Homo sapiens: one gene and its partners. The protein of the gene in region 2 interacts with the protein of the main gene of each other region in a biochemical or structural test. Each region holds a gene or a part of one and is shown on either strand. Other genes may lie near its edges. The genes, in order: FRS2, NTRK3 and PTPN1.

Region 1 (3,748 bases), on a different chromosome or scaffold from region 2:
TCTGCCATTGGGAGTACTTTAAGAGAAAAATTTAAGCACTGTTAAAATAAATGAATTAAACATTTTTTATTTACCAGCAACAATGATACACAACATAACTCTATAAACCCATATCATTTTAATATCTAAAGCAGCAAACCCACAGTTTTCTTTAAAATTAACAGAGGGTCCAAGCTATTTCTACTTAACCTGAACATTTTGCCTTGGACATTCTAATAGAATTTAAATATTTCTATAGCATTCCCAACTTTTAAAATTACGCAACCAAAAACACTCAAAAGAAACAAATGTTAAGCCTTAATTTAACAGTCACCTAGGCTAGGTTTGCACCTTAAGTTCCCCACCCCCACACCCCCCCCCGTCCCTCCCCCACAGCCGCCTGCCCACCCAAGTGAACCAGGGAGTCAATAAGCTCCTCATCTAGACAACTGATGCAATTTCAATAAGCACTTATGTTCATAATTGGTTTGTGTCCCCAGGAGGACTTCTGTGACTCCACTTACATAACCCATTACGCACAGTGCTGCACTATTCTTTCTCTAGAAAGCATTTTGAATACTGATATTTGTACAAGGTTTACTTGCTGTATTAATAAAAAGGCTTTTCTTGCTCTATCTTTCCTGCAGAAGAAGTGAAATGGAAAGCCAATTTCTGCTGCTTCACTATGTCAAAGGCGAGTTATTTATCTTGTTGGCTAATCAACAGAGTAATAACTTAAAGCAGCACCCCCAGGCAGCGCCCACAGTTCAACAGTTTTCTCCAGAGGCTCTGGTTGAGAAACACAGTCTTAAACAAGTAATTTAGAGCTACTTGTGTGAACTCAACTGAAAACAGTCTGAACTGCTCCTTGAAATATGTTATAAGTATTGACTGTGAATCTTGACAAAATTAAATTCAATGGTGGCGAGAATCACAATACGTCCTCTGTAGGCTAACACAAGGGCAGAATGTACCCCAAACCTTCTTTAATATGCATAAATATGTGGATGAATAGTCTCCTCCAATCCCTCAGATTCTGTTTAAGCCAAGATTTTCGGATTTCACAGAACCATAATCTTTAAAAAGGGGCACGAGGAAGGAGAGGGTGACCAGCATAGGGCTGCCAACTTTTATTCTGCCAAGGACATTTAAAAAACAAAAACAAAAACTACCGATTACCCATCACCACTATTTCATAAAAGAACTAAGCGCCCATCGAAAATGGCAAAAGATAATTTTAGAAAAACATATCAATAGATTTAGCTTTAAAGAAGCCAACTACATTCTCCTTTCACTCAAAGGAAAACTCTGTCATGAACTGACACTACTCCACAGTCCAGCACTTCGGGAGCCACAAGCTTAAGTGGCTAGCTCCCACTGAGAAAAGGAAAGTGATGATACGTAATGCCCAAACCAAATATTAACCTATTCAATAATGAGGAAATGTAAGCTTAGAGAAGTTTAGGGACTCTCCCAAGGTTGAATACCAAGGATTTTGACACGGGTCTATCTAATTCTAGAGTCAGAGGTCCCAGCCATTATCCTAAGTTTCCTCTAATATTCTTCCAGTGGTATAACAATCCACCCTCATCTAGTCACCTTTGTGACCAATGACAACCAAGGAATTTCCAAGACAGCTGGAGGGAGTGAGGGGTGTACTCCCTGGCCATCATTTAGACTGAAGCTAAATGGAACTCCTGACCTTTGCCTCATTAATACCAGGCTTACTGAAACTAAGCCAAACAGCCCAGACAAAGCACACACAAAACCCCCTGCCTCCAACAACACTGACACAGGACTCTTTCGACATTCCCAAGTGCCTGTGATATAGTGGAAAACATATTCCTGAAAAACAAAAGGAATGTATTAATTCTCAAGAAGGAAATAAACACTTCCATGGTAACTCAGTCTAAAAATAATAAACTTGCCCTCAAAAAGTTACAACTCTAAGCCTCATTCTGCAAACTATTATAATCTTTTACACATTAATACTCAAGTTCCCCCTATTTAAATACCTAAACAGAAAACCACACAAAATTCTATAAATTTACAGTTCTTAAACAGTTTCCAAAATAAAATATGTAACTTTCATATGTGTTATCATATAATGGATAAAAGTATCTTATTCTATCCCTCTAATATAATCCAAACATTATAAGCCAAAACTAATCATGTTAATCAAAAGAACTTATAAAATAGAGTTGGAAGAAAAATATGTAATCAAATGCCATTTTCTATAAAAAGCAATATTAACAGCCTTAATGAGATGTAAATATTATCTTTGAATATTCAGAGGTTCTTGATTTTGAAACCAAAATCGATGTCATACACATAAATAAGTGAAATACTGTATCAGAGATTTGCTTCCAACTCCTCACATACCACTTGCCAAACAAATGTCCAAAAGAAACAAGCTAACATAGCTTTTAAGTAACCAAATCTGACACTCTGGATGAAATGAGTCTGAAGTAGTTTGTCCTCCCTGAAACAGGGTAAAGATAGCATAGTATTCTTGCTACCCAGGGCAAGAAAACTGTATTTCCCAATTGGATTTTTAATGATCAGATTCTTTCTACTCCGTGTGAACCTACAGTGTGAAGAAGCAGTGGACATACTATCAAATTCTTTACCCACTGCATAAAATAAATCACTTAGCATATTTCCTTCTGTTTTAAACAGATGCCATTTAAAACAGAAGTTTTTTTTTTCTTTCCCCTCTACATTCTCCCTTGGCACTTTCATCTTCTTACACAGATTCAACCAGTACACCTATTTGTATTATTCACTAAACCCATGTTTAATATATGCCTAGTCCTGACCTCTCCCCTTAACCACAAATCCACATTTCCAAAAGCCTTTGGACATTTCCAGCGTTTGGCAAGTATACAAAAAAGTCAACAAATCCAAAACTGATCTCATTACGTACCTCCTTGCCCGTATTTCTAGTAAGAGTACCACCGTCAACATCTCCGACACTTAAAAAGTGTAATCTTCAGCTGGGCGCAGTGGCTCACACCTGTAATCCCAGCACTTTGGGAGGCTGAGGCAGGCGGATCACGAGGTCAAGAGATCGAGACCATCCTGGTCAACATGGTGAAACCCCGTCTCTACTAAAAATACAAAAGTTAGCTGGGCGTGGTGGTGAGCACCTGTAGTCCCAGCTATTCGGGAAGATGAAGCAGGACAATCACTTGAACCCAGGAGGCGGAGGTTGCAGTGAGCCAAGATCACGCCACCGCACTCCAGCCTGGCAACAAAGCTAGACTCTGTCTCAAAAACAAAAGTGTAATCTTCACCTTCCATCTCCTCCAAACCTGCTCCAAAAACCCCTCCTCCTCGCCACCCACCTACGACATTGAGGTCCTGCAGAGCCTTCACTCTAATTCCATTACCACTGCCCTTGCCCAGTATTTATACTACATTGAAAGTCAGCTTTCCACATCAAATCATTCTGCACACTACTCTATTAGACCTTGGTAACTTCTCATTACCTCCCAAACGTCGAACTTTTTTTCCCCAAATGTCAAACTTCTAAAAGCAGCACTTAAACATGCTCCACAATCCTGCCCCCACTTAAAATTCAAACCTCATCTCTAATTCCCAAAAATGAACAGTATATTCCAGGTAATCTGGTCCACTAACTTTTCTCCAAGTACACAATGAACTTTCCCACCTCCACACTTCTGCTCACATCATTCTCTTTATTTGAAAGGCCTTCTTCACCCACCTACTCCCAATCCATAAATCTTTGTCTTAGAAAAGTCTTATT
Region 2 (3,748 bases):
AAGTATTCCCGCTTCCAAATCTCATGTCAATAGCCCCTCACATTTCTGTCTTCCTCTCTCAGGCGTAGTCCTAATGTCTGGCTGAAAGGGCCACGCCCAAGAAAGAACAGAGCCAAGGGGACCCACAAGCTGGTAAGAGAAGCCCCAGAAGAACCACAGACTCCTGAGAGCCTCTGGACTTTTCCATTTGTGAGCTATGACAACATGACCACCTGGGACACTAGATTTGTTCTTTATTTTGTTTTCTTGATCTGTAAAATGGGACTGTTAAGCTCTGCTTTTATATGCCAAGCAACTGTCACAAAAATAAACTCAACAATTGTAAACTAAAAATAATGATATGACTGATGGGGGCATTCGTGGAGATGAAGAATTTGCTACACAAGGATAAGAAGGTAGGATCCCAGTAGGCACTAGACCATCGTTTCATAAGAGCTGGCCTGGCCCCTGCGAGGGGGCTTTTGGGCCTTGGGAACTCTGATCCGGAACTGAGATCCTCCACCCCACCCAGCTTATTCCCTCCTCACATTAACCATACCCCCCTATTAATCAACCGTTCCTTGGCCCAGCACCAAGAGAGAGCCAGGGGCTTCAGGACCACCTCTTCTGTCACCACCCTGTCTCCTTCTCAAGTGCCAACCCTCCCAATCACAAGAGCAGTGGGTACCAAGCTGTATTGATCATGCATGATTTAGCAATCAAAAAGTTTATTTTATAAACCCCAAACACTCATATTTATTACTTTATATGTTTATATATCTATTATCTATACATTAAATATGAAATATCCTCTTTTCTAGGCAAAAATAATTTGCAATAGAAGTTCCAGTGTTTTCTTCTCACACCCAGTGGAGAGCTGTGCTCCAGCAATGGGCTGAAAGCTTTGCAAAAGAACATCTTTTCCTGGCCCTGAGCCCAGGGTGCAGATGGGGAGTCACGAAGCTGGGTGTCCAGGCCCTAATGAGAGGCTGCAGGCCCCAGCACATTCTTGTTAAATATGCCATTTGGTCTGGGCAGTTGACTCTAAATAGTGTCATGTGTCACAAATGGTGTCAAATTCTGGGTGGCCTGAGTTTGCTAGAGGTGGGAAGGGAAGGAAGAGGAGAATAACCACTGTCCCAAGGTCAGTGAGGGAGTGCACCTCCTCCTGGCACCATCACAAGGATCACTGCCATCCCCAGGAGATGCCCTTAAAAGTGGCGTGGCCGAGCCTCCTGGGGGAAGTTCTCTGGGCCCTGAGATGACATATGTCCAAGTTGGAAGAAACACTCTGCCCTGCGGCCTCAATTCATAGTTGAATTTACAGGCTCTGAAAGTCTAGAGTGCCCTGATGGAGCTCACAGGGAGTTAGGGGCAGAGCCAAGGTGGGATTCACATGATCCATCCCTTTCTCTGCCACCAGCCAACTGGAGGCCCCGAGGGGAGGCTGGAGACCATGCCTATGACTTCTGTGCAAGCCACCCATGGGAGCACATGGGATGGGGACCCAGGCCACAGTGGAAATGCCGTGATATTGGCAAGGGCCATACCAAAGGAGGGCCTCAGGCTACCCACACCCACCCAAGAGCCAGCTGAGTTGGGGCCCTGGTCCTTCTACAGAGTTGGACAGAAGCAGCAGCTGGCAGGGACTGGCAAGGCAAGGACAGGCCCTCCCTTTCTCACAGCAGCACCTCCTGTTCAGCCAGGCAGGAGGGTAGTAGGAGCCTTCTAGGACCCTAAGGAACCTTCCAGGTTGCAGGCTTAGCCTTCCTGGGGCCAGTAGATGAGGACTTTCAAAGCAGTGGCCAGGTTGGGCTGGTTTTTGCCCAAAGCTGTCATGGCCTCAGGTCCCATGGAGGTGCAGAGCAGATGCCCTTGGCCCCAGGGTGTATGACAGAAGCTTGACCTGCTGGGCTTCCTGGGGCAGGGGGTCTTGGCTCTGGAGCCACCAATAGCCTTTCCTTGGTGGAAAACCCCAGGGCCTCAGGAGACCAAGGTCTCCAGGTTTGATCCTGGAAGTACCTTTCTCTGGGGCTGTAACTACTCCTGCTTCCAAATCTCATGTCAACAGCCCCTCACATTTCTGCCCACCTCTCTCAGACCTAGTCCTAATCCTGGGGTTCTGAGCACCAAACTGTGCCTACCGAGAGTGAGCCCCATGATGCCTTTGGGGCCTGGCTCATACCCTGCTGGGTCATTGTCAAGGCTGGGTCTCCCCTTGATCCTTAGAAAGAATGAGACTCAGGAGCCAACATGACGGCCAAAGCCCCGAATGATCCTTCAGCCAGCCAGAAGAGGGCCTTCAGGGAGGGCCATGGAAATGAAGGGACCAGAGAGCTGCCAAATGCCAGGGACCCTGTGGCGGCTCAGAGTGAGACCCAGCTGGCGACTCAGAGTCCCAGCTAAGAGCCCGTGGTCTTTGCAAGCCGAGGTAGCCAGCCCCAAGCATACCTGGTCCAGCCATGCCATCCTCTCCCACTTCATCTTCTTTCTAACAGCTAAAGACCATACCACTCCAACCCAGCCCCAGGTAGGCCTGGCCTAGCAAAGCGGCCCAGACAGTCCACCATGGCCACCACCCTCCTGCCTTTGTGACGTCACAGCCTGGTTGGGTGTGGCTGCGCATGGACCCTTCCAGGCTCCATGAGGTTCCTGTGTATCAACAGCTGCAAAGGCAAAGGGATTGGCCTCCTGGGCAGAAAGGGGCCAAAAGGGAGGGCCCTTTGGAGGAGCGTGGCTCTGGTGAGGGGTGGAGGTGAGACCCACACTTATGCTCTGATGCCTTGCAACTGATTTCCTCCAGATACAAACAGGGCAGCTGAATGGGGAGATGGCCTCCCCCATCAGAGGCAGTTCCCAGCCAGCTTCCTTGGATGGCCACACAGGAATCACTCCACACACCATCCCTGAGAAGCAGAACCACAGGGAAACCTCTTGTCCCTCTGGAAACTCAGTTACAATCAGTTCAGCACTTGAAGGAAGGATCTCGAAACATTACAGCCCGAAGAACAAGAGGGTGAAACTGTGGAGGCCTCAGCATCTTCTACCCAGAGTGTGCCCAAGCTATACCCTGGGGCAGCCACCAGCATCAAGAGCTTCAGGCCAGTAGGGAGCTAGGGGACCTCTTGGTCCCATTTCCTTGATAACATCAGAAATCTGAAGAACAACTCTCCAGCAAGGCACGGGCTTCAACTGAAGCCCTCTTCCCAAGTCATACTAAAACAAGAACTGACCCCAGCTGCGGGTGCTTCTCTCTGCCCGCACATCCCTCTTCCAGCCTGCTCCATATGCAGCCCCACACAGTGGGGGTTCCTGTTGGGATTGTGTGTCTGGGGCAAGTGACCTTACCACCCCAAGCCTCCATTTCCTCAGAAGTCAAACAGGGATGGGGATGCTGACTTTCCGGGGTAAGCGTGACTCTCCGCCCTCTCTCCAGCCCCCTGGCTCTGGAGTGGAAATCTGGGCTCTTCTCGAGCTCAGTCAATACCAGCCATAGATATAACAGGGCACTGGGGAAAAGATGGGGCAAGGAGAGGTCATTTGACCCATGACCTCTGACCCTCCCCCACCTGCCACTGGCACAGCTCCTGTGGGAATCCATTTCCCTTGTTCTTTGGTGTTGGGTGGATTTAGAGAAAGGAGTCCTGATGGCCTCTCAGAATCCAAGTCCTGAAACAAGAATGGGGACACACACAGAGGGGCTCCAGATCCACTCCCTGCTCACTATCCTCCCAGACGCCCTCCTGAGGCCCTCCAGTACCAAAGAGGG
Region 3 (3,748 bases), on a different chromosome or scaffold from region 2:
GGATGCGGAAGCGCTGCTTGCCAACAGGAGGCTGCATCCACAGGGTTTCAGTACCAGCGTGTGTTTCTAGAACAGAAAGTCATTTCCCCTCACCCCAACAAGCTGGGACCCAATCATATTACCTTTCGATGCCGTAGGGTGCGGCATTTAAGGGGCTTCCTTTTTCTTCCTTGATGGGGCAGTCTTTATCCTCCTGGGTCTCTTCCTTCACCCACTGGTGATTTGGGAAGAACTCCCTGCATTTCCCATTGTGTGGCTCCAGGATTCGTTTGGGTGGCCGGGGAGGTGGGGGGATATGCTCGGGTGGGGGCTCCAGGTCCTCGTGGGAAAGCTCCTTCCACTGATCCTTGAAAGAGCAGCAAGAGGAAGTCCTATTAGTGTTCACTTCGGCTGGTTTGTCAGGAAATCCCTTTGCATGAGCAGAGGTGACGGCTTGGCGAGGGGCTCTCGGCCTCTCAGGGCTGCAGCCATGTACTTGGAAGATGAAATCTTTTGAAAATAAAGTCTCGTCTTCCTATCAATGCTCTCTATGTGAGCACTTCAAAGGCACAAAGTGCAACATGGTGAACATTTTGACAACTTTCTAGCTATTTTAAACATGAAGGGTAGCTATTTCCCCTGACACCAGACGGTGTTTGAACTTTTACAACTGACAGCCTCCTTCAAAGACAAAAAAGTTAAAATGGTCACACCTGGATTCAAACAAAGGCAATGCTGACCTGCACGGAAGAGTCCCCCATGATGAATTTGGCACCTTCGATCACAGCCAGGTAGGAGAAGCGCAGCTGGTCGGCTGTCTGGATCAGCCCCATCCGAAACTTCCTCATTTCTAACAGCACTTTCTTGATATCAACGGAAGAAGGGTCTTTCCTCTTGTCCATCTGAAAGCCAGAGAGGAGATATAAGTCAGCCAGGTCCAATTCTCAAGGGCAACGTTAATAACACCGTTAGATGTCTGTCCCCTCCCAATCTCATGCTGAAATGTGATCCCTAGTGTTGGAGGTGGGGCTGGGTGGGAGGTGTCTGGGTCAGGGGGACAGGTCCCTCATGAAAGGCTTGGTGCCCTCCCTGAGGCAATGCATTCACAAGAGAGCTGGTTAAGAGTCTGGGACCTCCCCCATCTCTTGCTCCTGCTCCCCTTCACCTTCCACCATGACTGGAAGCTCCCTGAGGCCTCCCCAGGAGCCGAGCAGATGCTGGTGCCATGCTTGTACAGCCTGCAGAACCGGGAGCCAGTTAAACCTCTTTTCTTTACAAATTACCGAGTCTCAGGTACGCCTTTATTAGTAACGCAAAAACAGACTAACACAGTGAGTCTCTGTATTTTGGAAGAGGAGCGCTTCAGTTTCTACTTAGGAAAAAACATCACAGCAGAGCAGGTAGAGGAGCTCCCCAGGGCACCCGCGAGGGCCTCCTTACCAGCAAGAGGCAGGTATCAGCCAGACAGAAGGTTCCAGACCTGCCGATGCCTGCACTGCAGTGCACCACAACGGGCCCGTGCTCCGGGCTGAGTGACCCTGACTCTCGGACTTTGAAAAGAAAGTTCAAGAATGAGGCTGGTGATTCAGGGACTCCAAAGTCAGGCCATGTGGTATAGTGGAAATGTAAGATCTCTCGAGTTTCTTGGGTCTGAAAGAGAAAAATACTCATGATGATTCTAAAAGAATCATCTGTACAGAAATCACTAATTCCAAGTACACACAGAGTCACCTTCCACTCTCTACCTCTAAGAGGAACATTCATTCTCAGACTTTCTCCCAGGGTCCACACACCCAGTCAACAAATACCACACCCTGGGGCCAGGCCCTGGGCTTGACACTGAACCTGCAGGGTGCGCCTGCTTAGACTTCATTTCCCTTCGGATTGAAGAGTCCCCTCACCTCTTTTCTCCCTATCACTTCCACTGTCTACATGGTTACAACTGGTTTCTCTCTGTCTCACGAGTCACAATGATGCTGGGCAGCCACCCATAAAATCTTGTCATAAAGCCCTGCAAGGCCTCCCGTGAAAAAGTGAACAAGGAACAGCAGGTGAGGCACTGGCTCTGGGCAACTTTCAGACGGGGGCTTCAAGATGATCTGGAGGTTTCAGAGGATTGTCACTTTAGAGAAAAAAGTAGCAGACTTGGTCTCCAAAGACTGGTGACTCCAAGGTGTGGCTCAACACCCAGCTGAAGAGGCAGTCAATGCGAACGGCATCAGCCCATGAACCGAGTGTGTCCTACGTGCTGGCGCTGCGCTCTCCCACCAGCTGCTCCAGGCAGGCACTCCCATCCATTTTCCGATGAGGAGGTGGATGTTTGGAGGCAGAGAGTCCATGCTGAGAGCCTGCTGCAGACACGTTTGAAAGGTGGACCCCAGCCCTTGTCCCAGAATGTCTCTTCCGTGGCTGGGTCTGCCCCAGAGGAACAGAAGCAATGGCCTGGCGTCTGTTTCCAGCTCTGCTCCTTCCTTGAGGCTTCTGGCGGCTGTGATCAAAAGGCAGCCCTCACTGGGGGGAGTACGCAACATCTTCAATGACCTAAGAGCTCCTAGTAAATGGGAACCAGTCACTTGGTAAGCAAGGCCCTGAGAGGGAAAGGGCTCTGGAAGTGAAAGTCTCCTAACATGGGCCCGGGAAGACAGCCACAGACAGGAACCATACCAGCCTGGAGAGTTTCCCTGTGGCCCAGTGCCAGGGCCACCTGGCGAGCAGCTGATGGCAGAAGGATTCAGGCCAGAGATCTGCTCATGATGCCTTCCTTCACTTGACGAATGTCCACACTATGCCAATCATGTGCCAGTCACTGTGCCAGGGAGGCGGGGGCAAAGACACCACCTCACCCTCACAGAGCTCATGGCATAGTTACTAGGACCTCCCCCAACTCTGCTGGGATGAAAATAATACATATTTAACCCTGCCTCAGCCATTAAATACACTAGTAAATAATATTTAATGTTCATTAAATATTAAATACAGTATCTTGGCACAGAACAAGGAGAAATTTGTGTATGTTAGGATAATTGCTAGACTCACACTAGGCAATTCCATCATTCTTTCCTCTCTAGAAAATGGTATCCATATAACCTTAATGACATTAAAGAAGAAGAAATACCTCTTCTATTTGGTGGGTGGAGGCAGGTGGGGAAGAAAAGGACTTAAAATGTATTTTTAAAAAATTATTATTATTATTTTGAGACAGAGTCTTGCTCTGCCGCCCAGGCTGGAATGCAGTGGCATGATCTCGGCTCAATGCAACCTCCGCCTCCTGGGTTCAAGCAATTCTCTGCCTCAGCCTCCCGAGTAGCTGGGATTACAGGTGCCCGCCACCACGCCCGGCTAATTTTTTTTTTTTTTGTATTTTTAGTAGAGATGGGGTTTCACCATCTTGGCCAGGCTGGTCTTGAACCCCTGGCCTCGTGAACCACCCACCTCAGCCCCTCAAAGTGCTGGGATTACAGGTGTTAGCCACCGTGCCCGGCCGTTAAAATGTATTTTAAAATTGAATAAGAAGCAAGCATGCCAAATGCAAGTTTTCCTTTAATCCTTGAAGGTGTGGGTTACCGCCCACTGACACCCTCCCTCACACCTGCTCACCTCTTTCACAAGGAACTCATTCCAGCCTTGTGCTAGAACAGACAGCTATGGCTGAGAAAAGCCTTTTAAAAACAAAGTCTGTTGGAGCAAACAGATCCTAACATCAAAACCTCTGAGCTGGCTGTATTCACTCTGCCAAGCAAAAAGCGCACAGCTCTTCTGCTCTGTTGAA

The links.
Region 1: the proteins of NTRK3 (region 2) and FRS2 form a complex in vitro, tested with the Homo sapiens proteins (one study listed by BioGRID).
Region 3: the proteins of NTRK3 (region 2) and PTPN1 form a complex in vitro, tested with the Homo sapiens proteins (one study listed by BioGRID and IntAct).

Annotation. Positions count from the first base shown.
Region 1 is NC_000012.12:69,473,366-69,477,113, reverse strand, and holds part of FRS2 (fibroblast growth factor receptor substrate 2), read right to left. Parts: exon of another isoform or gene 2,906-3,748; intron 1-2,905. UniProt on the Homo sapiens protein: Adapter protein that links activated FGR and NGF receptors to downstream signaling pathways.
Region 2 is NC_000015.10:88,250,093-88,253,840, forward strand, and holds part of NTRK3 (NT-3 growth factor receptor isoform a precursor), read right to left. Parts: intron 3,387-3,748; exon of another isoform or gene 2,638-3,386; intron 2,523-2,637; exon of another isoform or gene 2,431-2,522; intron 1-2,430. UniProt on the Homo sapiens protein: Receptor tyrosine kinase involved in nervous system and probably heart development.
Region 3 is NC_000020.11:50,576,301-50,580,048, reverse strand, and holds part of PTPN1 (tyrosine-protein phosphatase non-receptor type 1), read right to left. Parts: intron 1,630-3,748; coding exon 1,420-1,629; intron 882-1,419; coding exon 720-881; intron 347-719; coding exon 123-346; intron 1-122. UniProt on the Homo sapiens protein: Tyrosine-protein phosphatase which acts as a regulator of endoplasmic reticulum unfolded protein response. Mediates dephosphorylation of EIF2AK3/PERK; inactivating the protein kinase activity of EIF2AK3/PERK.